2 separate regions of the Homo sapiens genome follow, and region 2 is reported to be linked to region 1. The links are microRNA targets in miRTarBase. Many come from high-throughput screens and were not tested one by one. Region 1 holds a microRNA gene; the other region holds the end of a gene's coding sequence.

Region 1 (7,120 bases):
AATCTATGTGGGCAGGGCCCAGGGTGTGTGTGTGTGTTGTGTACAGGGCCCAGGGTGTGTGTGTGTGTTGTGTACAGGGCCCAGGGTGTGTGTTGTGTATTTTTTTTTTTTTTTACAAGTTCTCCAGGTGATTTTAACAGGCAACCAATGTAGAAAAGCCATACTTAAGTCACAGGACTGCCTATGTCCTTATTTATTTTACCTATGGCTCAGGTAAAAGGAAGATTTCAAAAGGAATACTTGACAGAACTCTTCTAATAATTCTGATGTGAATGGTGGAACATGCTACTTATAAAAATACAGAAGAACAAAAAATACACTATTGCTAACGTTTTGATTGTATTCAAATTTTTATTTTTTGAACAAAAATTTAAGACAATGATTTTAAATAATAAAACATGGTATATATTCTAGACACTGGTTTTTTTTAAAGATTTATTAAATTTAGACTCCTATAGTTCTGTTGTGATGCTTTCTTCAACATTTATATTATTTCTTACCATTTTATCATCACTCCAAGCTTGCTAAACAAAGAATCTCTCTGTTAAGTGAAGTTTTACATTAAGGAAATACTCCACTAGCACACTGAACAAACCTACAGAACTGTCCTAGTTTATATTTACAAAACACAAGAAGTCTGTCCAGCCATTTTGGTTTTGTTGTTACACTGTCCATACTGAGATCAGCAGAGAGCTAAGTAATACACAAGATTACGCTTCGGCAGTGCAAAGGATGGCATCAACCAAACTTCATTAAACAGACCAACAAGTACAAACATGGTGAGCAAAGTTCAACTCAGGTAATAGTGATTAAAAACAAAACATGTAGTGGGTCACAACCAGACTGGTTTTCACTGTGCAACTTTCCTCAGGGAATAATACCCATTCACAGAAAGAAAGGAATATGCATCCAAGCCTTTGTTCATAAAGAAAATGCCCTTCAAACAAATTCATCATAAGGCTAAAAAAAAAAAAAAAGAAAGAAAAAAGGATGAAGCAGTTTGGCCCAGAGAAAAGCTTAAATATAATGTGTATACATACTTATAGATATGTTGCCATTTAAACCATGGATATAGACATTTGACAATTAAATGAATTGGCTCAGTAAAGTGAAAAAGTGTTTTCTATAAATATGTAGTTATTGCTGATATGCTACACATTATGCTTTGACATGGAGACTGTAGTAACTCAGAATTTAAAGCTGCCATATTGCCAGTGTTAGCCCTGCAGTAGGCATTCCTGTGGACAACATGCCATCCAATCCTGAAGAAAAAGCAAAACACCACTACTTAACAAAGAAAAGGCTTATGCACTGTCCCTTACATTTTTGTTTTTTTTTTTTAAAAAAACAAAACAAAACAGAATCAAGTCCAGTTCACCACAAGTTAAGCACAACCTGGCGAGCAAGTTTAGCGGCATGATGGGGAGAAAACAGTGAGGTACAGCATGCATTTACAACCAGCGCTGATCTAGTCTATTTTGTCATATAAACTTGAATACAAAAATCCAATTTAAATAAGACTAGACTTACTATAATAGTAAACAAACAAAAACAAAAAACAAAAAAAAAAAACACACACAGTAGACTTAGTTTGATACTGATTAATTTTAAGAGTAAACTCATCCTGTCCCCTCTTAATACTCTACTGCAATTTATTGATGGCTAGAATATTTACTGACTTAAAAAAGGTATTAAATACTTGTATCATGAAATTACATTCTTATTAACAATAAGACATACTGTGTAAGAAAATAGCTCATGTGTGAAATGTGTCTGAAATGCATTTTTTCCTTACAACTATCAAAACATCCACTCACACTAAAATGAAACCACTCCCAACCCCCCCTGAAAAAATGTTAAGGGAAGACGGGGTGGGCTGGGGGAGGAGCAAGGAAGGAAAAGATTTAGCTATACTAATTACAGCACAGTGATTAACAATGGTTCAAGACAGAACCAACAAGAGTTGGTCAAAAAGATGCCTTCAATACATGGCTACAATTAAAAACCAAACTCAGCCGCTTTTGGTTCATTGCAGTGAGACCAAAAAAATTATCTCTCACAGATTCATATAAATACTAGACTCCAGCTCTTATATCATTTTTTTTTAAGTTTTTCTGTTTGTTTCTGCAAGGCCTAGCTATCTTATTACAATTTATATTTGCTCTGCAACAACTACAAGAGGTAGGCATAAAGCATGAAAAAGTTTCTCAGTTAGTACCTCGCCATGTGTTGTTCACTGCACAAAACCATTCACTTTGGACATGAATAGTCATTCCTTCTATTATCTTCTAAACTCTAAAGCAAAGCTGCTGCCACCCGTAAATGTTCTAAAAGAGTGTACTCACAAGTAAGAAACTTTCTCTACTGAAGGATACTGTCACAGAGTTTGTTGCAGAGCATCTATATATATATTTATTTATTTATTTTAAAAAAATAAACAACAATGATGAACGAACCCAGGTTCCTAGAACCAATTCTCTTGATTCTCTACTTCCACAAAATAAAGTGTATCATTTGGCCAAGACTACAGATGTGTTTTTTTTTTTTTTCACAGATGCAAGTGCCATGCAAAAATAAATTAAAGAACAGATACCAAAACATACATGTGATAAAACTACAGAAGGTAGATTTTTAAAAGCATTTATATAAACATAATTTATAATACTTCTCTTTTTTCCTTTATATACAGTCACAAAGCTGTAGTTATACATCTAGGATTTCCTCTGCTGTACCCCCACAGCGTAATCTGTAGCGACCAGTTCTCCAGCTTATAGTTGGGTCCCATAATGCAGACAAAAAAATGTATATTGTCATGGATTCGCGGATGAACCAGGCGACTGCATAATCAAGTTTTGAAAAACACAGTGTGCCACCCTAGGAATGGAAAAAAAAATTTTTTAATTTCACTCACTGTCAAACTAAAGACAAGGTTAAAAAATTAAATTCTTGGATTTCACTTTTCTAAGTATACTATGTAAAATCAAGTCTGCTTCCTTATGTAATTTAACTGCCATGTTATACCGTTCAAGAAAATGCTAATTGTTAATGAAGCATTAAAATAACTGCTATCTTAATGTCTTATTAGTTTCAATACTCACTGATTTAATTAACTTCATGTTTTTGGAAACTTAATAAAAGCGATTATATAACCAATAGAAAGTTGCAAATCGACTTAAGTTTTGCATCAACATTCCACTAGAGAAAGTCATGTTCAAACCCGAGACTAACCTACAATGGGAAGCTGAAGAATGGCTCAGATACATTTCCTTCAACTTTTTCTAAATTGAAATAGTTCTAGTTCCACCAAGGGACTGCCAACCTTTTCATGCCTATCCACATACCTGGACACCCCTGAGTTGAATGTAGTCAAATATAAACCATGCCAGGCAATGACACATGAAAAATACCATAATATCCCATCTGAACACATGGTGGGCTGCCCATCCAATAATTAAACTGGCAACAAAGCATTCTGAAATTGGCTCACAAATTATTGTAGCAGGAAGCATGTTAATTCGTAGTTTGGTCCACCTGGAAAAACAAAAAGGATTTTCTTTAAAACAATATCCTGGCTACAAGACAAATCCTTTTTTTTTTCCCTCAAATAATCAATTTTTTTACCCTGTGATAGAAAGACCATTCTCTTTAAACTTTTTTTGTTTTGTTTTTTTTTTTTTACTTGAGACGGGGTTCTGCTCTGTCACCCAGGCTGGAGTGCAGTGGCACTCACTGTAGCTTCAATCTCCCAGGCTCAAGCGATCTTCCCACCTCATCCCACCAAGTAGCTGGGACCACAGGTGTACACGCCACCACACCTGGCTAATTTTTGCATTTTTTGTAGAGACAGGGTTTCACCATTTTGCCCAGGCTGGTCTCAAACTCCTGGGCTCAAGCAGTCCTCTCGCCTTGGCCTCCCAAAGCGCTGGGATTACAGGTGTGAGCCACCACACACAACCTAAAAATTTTTTTTAATGACTCTCTTTTCTATTTTTGTCTAGGATGTCAAAGAAAAATGTCTTTAAATTCATTTGTATGGCCTACGCTCTGATGAATACAGATAATAAAATTTAATCAGCACAGAAAGTTAGAAAATAAAGATCAGCATATTAAAAAATTCAGTCTCAACATTTCTCTAATGAGTGCTTTCAGTGTTATACAGCAAATAAAATACATTTAGACATTAAATTTATCTTAAACACAGACGTTAAACTCTATTTTCTGCAACTAAACAAAAATCTTCAACCTTTAGGTACATTCATTTAACTACATTAAACCTGTAAAAATTACCACCCCCCTCCCCACTTTCCTTTTAACGAAGTATAAAAAGAAAACAGTTGATTTACCTGATCATTCTGGATTGAAACTGAGAAATTGAATATGAGCCAGAGTTTTGCATTGCAACTTGAGTGGACATTGCAAACCTCCAACCTCTGAAAATTAAGATAATTAGAAAATAAGTTATGATGATGAACACATGCAAGCGTAACTGGTTATGCATTCAGTAATCATTATAAAGACCAGGCAACTGCCGGTATTCAGGGTGAGCCCAGCTTTCATGATTAGCACATGACTTAAGGTCTACCATACGTATGGATGTTTTAGCAATTATGCTGGCCCGTGACAGCACCATCTAAGAACTAGAAGAAACTGTACCCACCTTACTTTACAATTTAAGAAACTTAAAATGCAGTCATTTTGAAAAAAAATGGAGAGGGCTCCATATTTAATAGATTAGTCTCTGATGACTACTAACCAAACAACAAGACATGTAAACAGAAAGTGGCATTATGGATCTCATGGGAGACACTAGGAAACCATGAACCACATGAACACAATCATGACAGAATTTGTATTTAAAACACACTTCAGTTTTTAAAAAATTTAAAAGAATTCTCACACAAGGCAGTGATCTCCTTTAAAAACAAGTATTTTAGGCTGGATGCAGTGGCTCATGCCTGTAATCCCAGCACTTTGGGAGGCTGAGGCGGGCGGATCACGAGGTCAGGAGTTCAAGACTAGCCTGGCCAACATGGTGAAACCCCGCCTCTACTAACATACAAAAAAAAGTAGCTGAGTGTGGCGGCGGGTGCCTATAATCCCAGCTACTTGGGAGGCTGAGGCAGGAGAATCGTTTGAACCCAGGAGGCGGAGACTGCAGTGAGCCGAGATTGCGCCACTGCACTCCAGCCTGGATGTCAGGGCGAGACTGTCTCAAAAAAAAAAAAAAAAACCAAAACAAAACAAGTATTTTGTGATAGAGAAATGCTAAGTCAGTCATATGAATCTTTCAGTGGCTTCTTAGCAAAGTATCATATAATTCACTGACAAATTTCAAATTTTGAAATGATAGTCTTTAAATTTTCACCTACTAGTTTATGACTGCACTGATAGTTTTAATTCTTCTAAAACACAGAAATTTGTATCTATATAGTAAAAATTCTAAACACAGAGAAACTTACTTTTAATCGCTTTAAAACACATTAATTTGAAAAATGTAGAGGAATCAGAACATTTACCTTCTTCATTAGTACATATCTACAATTCTATAATTAGAATATGAATTACTCTATAAAATTATTGATCTGCTGGGTGTGGTGGCTCATACCTGTAATCCCAGCACTTTAGGAGGCCGAGGTGGGCAGATCACTTGAGTTCAGGAGTTCAAGACCAGCCTGGCCAACATGAAGAAACCCCATCTCTACTAAAAATACAAAAATTAGTGTGCATGGTGGTACATGCCTGTAGTCCCAGGTGCTCTGGTGGCTGAGGCATGAGAATCACCTGAACCCGGGAGGCAGAGGCTACAGTGAGCCAAGATCGCGCCACTGCACTCCAGCCTAGGTGACAGAGCAAGACTCTGTCTCAAAAACAAACAAAATAATAAAATTATTGACCTATTCTGTACTTACTAGCAAAAAAAATAAAATTAAATTAAAAAGCCCTAATCTATAGGTTGAACAAAAAGAATAAACCAACAGAAGTTAGGTAATAAAAATACTATGGCTTCATTTAGTTGTCTTACCGGTCAGCTATCGCTTTGGCCATAAAGTAATCTTCGGCAATGTACTGAGCAAAAGCTATAAGTCCTCCTGCTTGATCCAACACATCTTTTCTCATTAAACAAGACATTCCTGTCACACATTTGAAACCAGTTACATTGGCAGAGATATAGTATCTTGGATGTGAAGTTCCAAAATATACCTGCCCAAAAAACCACAAACGTGTATGATTAGAATTTCATGTTAAAAGCATGGTGTTCACGAACTGTTTTTCCCAATGGTTTTTTTATAAGTATGATTGAGTGAATATCTTATTATTCTTACGTAGACTACCTGAATAAAAAGTGGTAGACAATATTGCTTTCATAGAGCAAGCACAGTTAGTAAGCTAAAAATGCATCCAAATAAAACTTAATTTAGATACAAAATAAGGTAAAAATATCACTCATTGATATATAAAATATTAACAAATATTCAATGTATCTTGTTTTTAGGGTGTTCATGTAAATATACACACACATCTACTTTACTGGGATCAATATACATATTTGTATGTTACGTATATGTGTGTATATATACATGCATGCATACACACACCACCCATAGGTATATCAACCTTCGGGACAATCCTATTTTTTTGGGGGGTGGGGGGTGGGGAGGGGACACAATCCTATTTCTTAATTCCTTTTCTTGCATCCTTTTGTAGCTAGCTGCTCCCTCTCCCTTAGTCACTAAGATTCTTCCCAATTTCTCCATTTTTTTCAATGTATTTTTCATAACGGGGATACTAAAATTCTCTCATCCGCTACTGCCATTTCTCTGCATATACTCTGAAGTCATAAGATATATACGCTGATAAATCAATGGTAGAAAAGGACTGTTATTACCCTACTTAGTAGACATAAAATCCTATTTATTATTTACACCTCAGATATGTTGCCTTTTCTAATTAGCCTGAAATAAAGAGTAGTCATCTTTCTTAGGAGTTACACACACAGTGCAGAGCAAGAGAATTCTAAGGGGCAATTATGATTATGATTCTTGCTACCTACCCTGAACCCAGACTCCAGTGAAGCCCTAGTGTTTGTGGGACTGAACTGAACCTGACTTCTAAGAACAGA
Region 2 (7,099 bases), not on the chromosome of region 1:
TAACAGAGCGAGACCCTGTCTCGAAAACAACAACAAAAAAAGGAGTTATCTTTTTTGTTGTTCGTTTTTGAGACAGGGTTGCCCAGGCTGGAGTGCAGTGGTGCAATCATGGCTCACTGCATTCTCTAACTCCTGACTCAAGACATTCTCCTGCCACGGTCTCCCAAAGTGCTGGGATTACAGGCATGAGCCACCACGCCAAGCTCATTTTTCATAGTTTATAAACAGTCTGGAAAAAATAGGAAGAATTCTAGAGACTAAATATTCAAATTTCGGATACTAACATGTTGCATATATTTTCCTGTTCTATTAAAGGATATTGCTCTAAAAACAAGAGAAATCTTTACCAACCTAGCACCGTTTTCAGAAGTTTCGGCTGATGGAGAAAAGAGAGTCCTTAATTTGGAGGCGCTAAAGCAAAAACGATTTCCACCAGCAACAGAAAACTTCCTTTATCATCTAGCAGCAGCCGAACAAATGCTGAAAATCTGACTGTGTGACAGAACGTATCACTGATGACTGATAGAAAGCCCTCTTTCACTCTGATTACCCACTCACTACATGAAGTCCTGAAAATAACAGAGAAACTGTTATATCTTTTTAATGATTTATTTGCAAGTATTGAGATTTGACCTGAAAAACAATGAAACACATGAACACACTTCCGATTTTCTCCTCGCTGATTAGCTTCCTGCCTGCTGTCAGTGCTGGACGAAGTGCTATAACTACTTTATGTAACATTACAGAACAGCTAGAGGTCCTGGGGTAAGAGAAAAAAAGCACATCACAACAAATGTGAAAGCCTTCATTATTACACGTTCCAGTTTGTCTCGCTGTGTAGGCATAAGCTAATGGTTTATTTTCAGAAAGCTGCCTGAAACGTTGCTTTGTATTCTTCTAGGAAGAACTTTAATTCCTCCTGAGGAACTCTACTTTCTGAGCCAAACTGCTAATTTTCTGCGGAACTGTCTAGAAGATCATTCAAGAGACCCTGCAGTTGCACTTTCTCGTAAAAGTTAAAAAAAAAAAAAAAAAAAAAAGGTTTTTCCCGGCCTTTGAACATTTTGCCTATGAGAGTTTTGCATATATTTTATACTTGAGTAGACAACTTTAATAATCCATATTTATACTATCGCAGAAGTAAGCATTTGGCAAACGTTCAGCCATTAGCACTCATTTAACCCTGTTAGCAATATTCTTTTGAAAAAAGTGCCAGTCCTTATGTGATAAACTAAGAAGCCCATTGAATATAAAAGTGTGTAGGACTGAAACAGTGACCTTATATTATTGCTAAGGGAATATGAGATTAACTTCCTACAGGGGCCAAAACCAGAGAAAGGCTTCCAGCAACTTCGATGAAAGTAGTTTGGCCACATGTCAAGCCAATTGTTTGTACTATTTATGTACCTTTTTCATAACTGGAATTGCCAAATAAGCATGGAGATCTAAATGATGTACTTGTTAGTGTATTCATTCATATTGACTGTAAAGGATTATTTTTCACTCAGTACTGATGTCCTTGGAAATCTTACCTGGAAACATGTTTGCAAAAAACATTATTGGGTCTTTCATCTTTTTCTTGGTATTACATATTTGTTCAATAAAAATTAAACACCCTCCCTTTTTTTTGAGTGAGGGCAGGGAGTACCTGAAATAAGACAATGTTTACTAAGGCAAATAATTGAAAATTAAATCTGCACTTTATGGAAATGAGGAATATTAACATCTTTTTTCTCATTTTTTTGTATTACTATATTAGCTAATGATCAAAGTTGTTAAAATTATAAATTTATGATGCAGAAATAAAATTGATATATTTTGATATTCAACTACTTTTAGGTGGGTGACGAATTGTCCCCTCTTTCTCTAATACTGCTCATTCCAAAGAAAATGGGGAAAAAATACCTTTTTTCAACTGTGAGGGCGCTAGGGAATTATTAAAAGACCTGTCTGAAAGTTCAAGACGGCCAAGGGCGCGGTGGCTCATGCCTGTAATGCCAGCACTTTGGGAGGCCGAGGTGGGCGGATCACCTGAGATCAGGAGTTTGAGACTAGCCTGGCCAACGTGGTAAAACCCCATCTCTACTAAAAGTACAAAAATTAGCTGGGTGTGGTGGCACATGCCCGTAATCCCAGCTACTTGCTATTTGGGAGGCTGAGGCAGGAGAATTGCTCGAACCAGGGAGGCGGAGGTTGCAGTGAGCCGAGACTGCACCATTGCACTCCAGCCTGGACAAAAGAGCGAGACTTGGTTTCAAAAAAAAAAAAAAAAAAAAGTTCAAGCCGTCCCCCACACACCCTTTCCTCCCGCCCTAGCCCTCCTCCACTCGCCTTCCTGGAGCTGCCTCTGTAACTTCAGTCTCCTGTCCTTGGAAGATGCCTTCACATTTCTGTCATCTGTTAGCGGTTAAACCTCCACCTGCAGCTGTTGCCCATCTTGTTCTCTAACTTTAATTTTGGTTAGTGTCAGCCTATGGTCAAACTGAGCCATTTACTGATTTTGTCCTTTTAGGCTGTTATGAAACTTTCCTCACCAAATTTGGAAATGAACCATCATACTGGCCTTGGGGAAACAAAACCACAGATAAATTCTTTGGTAATGTGGGGTAGGGTGTGTTGGAAGCATTAGTCCAGTACTCAAATGTTGAGGTACCTACTCTGTGCCATGCCTGTGTTGTATTTTGAACTACCCTGATGGGCAGCAGCTCCCGCTCTCGCGGTGCTGCGCACAGTCCGCTTGGGGAATAGGGTCAGCAAACAGGCTGCTGTAGTGTGGCTAGTGCTAGGCGTGATGTGTGAAACAGAGTGGTATTGGAGCACATAGATGGGGACCCAGTTCAGTGCTGTCAATCCTGGAAGGCCTCCCAGAGGGAGTGATCAATGTCAAAGTCAGGCCTGAAGCATTAAGTAGACATCTACTCAGACCAGAGGAAACAGCTGTGTGAAGGCCCTGAGAAGAGACCACAGCCCATGTGAGGACCTGGAGGGTCTACAGGGAGGGGAGGGAGTGGCAGGATACGAGTATGGGAAAGGCTTGCTGTGGTGAGGAAGGTGGGCTTGATCTTGACGCACTGGGAAGCCATTTAAGGCTTTTCAGGCCCGGTGCGGTGCTCAGGCCTGTAATCCCAGCACTTAAAGAGGCCAAGGTGGGTGGATCGCGGGGACAGGAGATGACAGCCTGGCCAACATGGTGAAACCCCATCTCTACTTAAAAAAAGCAAAACAAAAATTAGCTGGACGTGGTGGCTGGTACATGCCTGTAGTCCCAGCTACTCAGGAGGCTGAGGCACAAGAATCACTTGAACCCAGGAGGTGGAGGTTGCAGTGAGCCAAGATCGCGCCACTGCACTCTACACTCCAGCCTGGGTGACAGAGTGAGACTCCGTCTCAAAAGAAAAAAAAACAGTTGTTCAGCAGGTGTGGTTTAGAAGAGCAGGCTGGAACGTGGACCGGAGGGAGTAGGCAGGAGATGGGCCAGGCAGTGCCAGCAGGGGATGCTGTTGGACTGCGCTGGGTGGTAGCAGTGGGCATATGTGGGTTCCAGACTCCATGTACTGGGCCCTGTCTACTGCATAGGCTGGTAAGGTGGGGAGAGGGCGCCTCCAGTGATCCTGTCTGGTGCACCTGGGGAGGTGGTGGTGTCAATTCCTGAGACTGGGAGGGAGAGCTGATCTCAGGTTCGGATGGGTTGAGTTTGAGGTGTCTGGGACATCCAAATGGCAAAGTACAGCCAAGTAAGCAGCTCAGTGACCAGCCTGAGTGCCCAGCAGTGTGGCAGTGCCACATTCAGGTGGGTCACGGATGAGAGAAATCTTAGCAGAACGGGAGGTGGGGTGGAGACAGTGAGGGCGGACAACTCTTTTAAAGTGTCTGGCTACAGCCAGGCGTGGTGACAGGCGCCTGTAGTCCCAGCCACTCAGGAGGCTGAGGCAGGTGGGTCCTCATTGAGCCCAGGAGTTCAAGGCTGCAGTGAGCTGATTGTGCCAGTGCACTCCAACCTGGGTGACAGCAAGATCCTGTCTCTAATGAGGCAGGTGACAAGCAGTTTATTTCTTTTTGAGACACAGTCGTTCTATTGCCTAGGCTGGAGTGCAATGGCATGACGTCAGCTCACTGCAACCTCCGCCACCAGGGTTCAAGTGATTCTCCTGCCTCAGCCTCCTGAGTGGCTTGGACTACAGGTGCGCAACACCACGCCTGGCTGATTTTTATATTTTTAGTAGACACGGGGTTTTACCATGTTGGCCAGGCTGGTCTCGAACTCCTGACCTCAGGTGATCCACTGACCTCAGGCGATCCACTGACCTCAGGCGATCCACTGGCCTCAGCCTCCCAAAGTGCTGGGATTACAGGCGTGAGCCACCGCGCCTGGCCGACAAGTAGTTTACATACTTCTGGGAAGGACCTGGCAGACAGAGGCTACAGAGCACAGCCCTGAGGAAGCAGAGAGAGGCCCAGAGCCTGGAGGACGCTGGCATTACACGGAGGAAGGATGGGTGTGGGTGCGGGTGTGGGGGGCTCCACTGCTGACCTGTTTCCTGGCGGAGGAGGCAGGGTCCTTTGCCAGAGAGGAGAAAGGAGGCACTGGGCGGAGGGCGGCAAAGGTTTTAAGTAGCTGTCTAGAATGGAGGACACTGAGTAAGGAAACAAGATTGCTTTTGGGGTTGGAGGGCGTAAACAGCGCCCCAGGGGTACGTGTTCCGCTTGAGACGGCCTATCCATTTAACACCTGTGTCCTGGGCACGGTGGACTCTGTGTTCTTTCTTCAAATCCTCAACTTGAGACAGGTTTATTAGTTAATTAGTGATTTCACAGTATCCTTTCGCAGGCCGATCCCCACTCCAACCGTTCCCTCAGCAACCCCAGGGGTGTCAGACGGGGCACCCTCCCACTGTCTTCTCCAGCCAGCCTTAAAAACCCCAGAGACGCCAGCCTGGGAACGATCTCAGTATGGAATCTGAAGTCGCCTTGTCAGCACAGACACCTCTGGGGTCCCCAGAAGACCTGTGGCAAAGTTCTCTAAACCGAACCTGGAGAGGGGAAGGTTTTCAAGCAGGAACCACATAAATTCACCTAAAACTCACGCCTACACCCCTCTGTGATAAAAGATTTCTGTTTCTTCTGTTGGAGACTGAATTTTCTCTTCAAGACTACAGTACTGTATCTGAAAAATAGTTAAATTCATAATGTTTCTATTAATAGTTTTTCTTGCCTTAGAAGCCAAGTTAAAAAAATCATTTTCTGAAAGCAACCATTTCACAGTCCATCTTTTTCAATAATGTCTAATCTATAGCAGAAAATGTAACCTATTTTTTTTTTTAATCACCCAAGCAGTAAAGAAACTTCTTAAACTTTTTTTTTTTTTTTTTTTTTGAGACAGAGTCTTGCTCTGTTGCGCAGGCTGGAGTGCAGTGGCACCATCTCAGGTCACTGCAACCTCCACCCTCCAAGTTCAAGTCATTCTCATGCCTCAGCCACCCGAGTAGCTGGGATTGGGATTACAGGCGCGCACCACCATCCTTGGCCCATTATTGTTATTTACTTATCTCTACATTTGTTTATAATTGAAAGTTTCCATTAAAAAGTTTTAAGATGGCTGGGCACAATGGCTCATGCCTGTAATCCCAACACTTAGGGAGGCTGAGGCAGGTAGATCACTTGAGGCCAGGAGTTCAAGACTAGCCCGGCTAACATGGTACAAAAAATACAAAAATTAGCTGGGTGTGGTGGCACACACCTGTAATCCCAGCTACTCCAGTGGCTGAGGCACGAGAATCACTTGAACCTGGGAGGTGGAGGTTACAGTGAGCCGAGATCAGGAGGATTGCTTGAGGTGGGGAGTTTGCAATCAGCCTGGGCAATATAGTGGGACCCTATCTCTACAAAAAATAAAAAATTAGCCAGGTGTGGTAGTACGTTCCTGTAGTCCCAGCTACTTGGGGGGCTGAGGTCAGAGGATCACTTGAGCCTGGGAGTCAAGGCTGCAGTAAGCCATGATCATACCACTGCCCTCCAGCCTGGGCAACAGAGTGAGAAACCCTGTCTCAAACACACAAACAAACAAAAAACAAATGTAGAAGGAATGTAATGAACTCACATGTGCTCACTCAGGAATCACTATTAACAATTTGCAGATCTCATTTCATCAAGCACCTCCCACACCCAGCAGTAGGATTTTTTTCCTTGAGTATTTTAAGGCAATTCTCATGTCATGTCACCTACAAGTTCCAAATGATAAAGACCTTATCATTATTGATATAGTACTTGATATAGTAATGACAGTAGTTACAAAACTACTATGTCATTGTCACACCTAACAAAATTAGTAATAACTCCTTATCTCATCTAAGCACCTCCATGCCCTCCTTGAGCCAACAGGATATTTTGTGTCTTTTTTTTTTTTTTTTTTAAATGAGATGGAGTCTCACTCTGTCACCCAGGCTGGAGTGCAGTGGCGCGACCTCGGCTCACTGCAAGCTCCGCCTCTGGGGTTCACGCCATTCTCCTGCCTCAACCTCCCGAGTAGCTGGGACTACAGGCACCCGCCACCACGTCCAGCTAATGTTTTGAATTTTTTTTTTTTTTTTTTTTTTTGATATGGAGTCTTGCTCTGTCGCCCAGACTGGAGTGCAGTGGCGCGATCTCGGCTCACCGCAAGCTCTGCCTCCAGGGTTCACACCATTCTCCTGCCTCAGCCTCTCGAGTAGCTGGGATTACAGGCGCCTGCCACCATGCCTGGCTAATTTTTTTGTATTTTTAGTAGAGACGGGGTTTCACTGTGTTAGCCAGGATGGTCTCAATCTCCTGACCTCGTGATCCGCCCGCCTCGGCCTCCCAAAGTGCTGGGATTACAGGCATGAGCCACCACGCCCGGCCCCAACAGGATATTTCCAAAGTCCAGCAAGCAAGTCTTGGCATCTGAGGTCACGCGTGAGACTGACTCCCTTTCCTGCCTCCACTCTGGCCTCTGGGAGTTCTGCCCCTTCCAACCTTGCATGACTTACCTGCTGCCCTGCTCCTTGGCCTGGCTGTGCAGGCCCTGCCACCTGGCCCCCAGCATCCTGCCTGTTCCTTGCAGCCTCACGTGCCCATTCAGCCC

Evidence for each region. Region 1 holds the annotated microRNA hsa-miR-4668-5p (AGGGAAAAAAAAAAGGAUUUGUC, at 3,579-3,601, opposite strand). A microRNA usually pairs through its seed, bases 2 to 8, with sites in the 3' UTR of a target mRNA and lowers its output. Matches are read on the target gene's strand: a 7mer-m8 pairs with bases 2 to 8, a 7mer-A1 pairs with bases 2 to 7 and ends in A, and an 8mer does both.
Region 2: the mRNA of DENND10 is a reported target of hsa-miR-4668-5p. Seed matches in the 3' UTR shown: 7mer-m8 at 1,044-1,050.

What each region holds. Positions count from the first base shown.
Region 1 is chr9:111,928,581-111,935,700 of GRCh38, reverse strand. MIR4668 (microRNA 4668) reads right to left here and starts at 3,601; the gene lies at 3,532-3,601. UGCG (UDP-glucose ceramide glucosyltransferase) reads right to left here. Exons shown (of 9, transcript NM_003358.3): 6 at 6,023-6,201; 7 at 4,344-4,430; 8 at 3,342-3,531; 9 at 332-2,874. The coding sequence ends at 2,704.
Region 2 is chr10:119,136,156-119,143,254 of GRCh38, forward strand. DENND10 (DENN domain containing 10) reads left to right here. Exons shown (of 9, transcript NM_207009.4): 9 at 316-1,829. The coding sequence ends at 492. SFXN4 (sideroflexin 4) reads right to left here. Exons shown (of 14, transcript NM_213649.2): 14 at 4,612-5,164. The coding sequence ends at 5,087. Among named protein-coding and RNA genes, the nearest start is that of SFXN4, 26 kb to the right of the region's middle. RefSeq lists an enhancer at 6,292-6,793.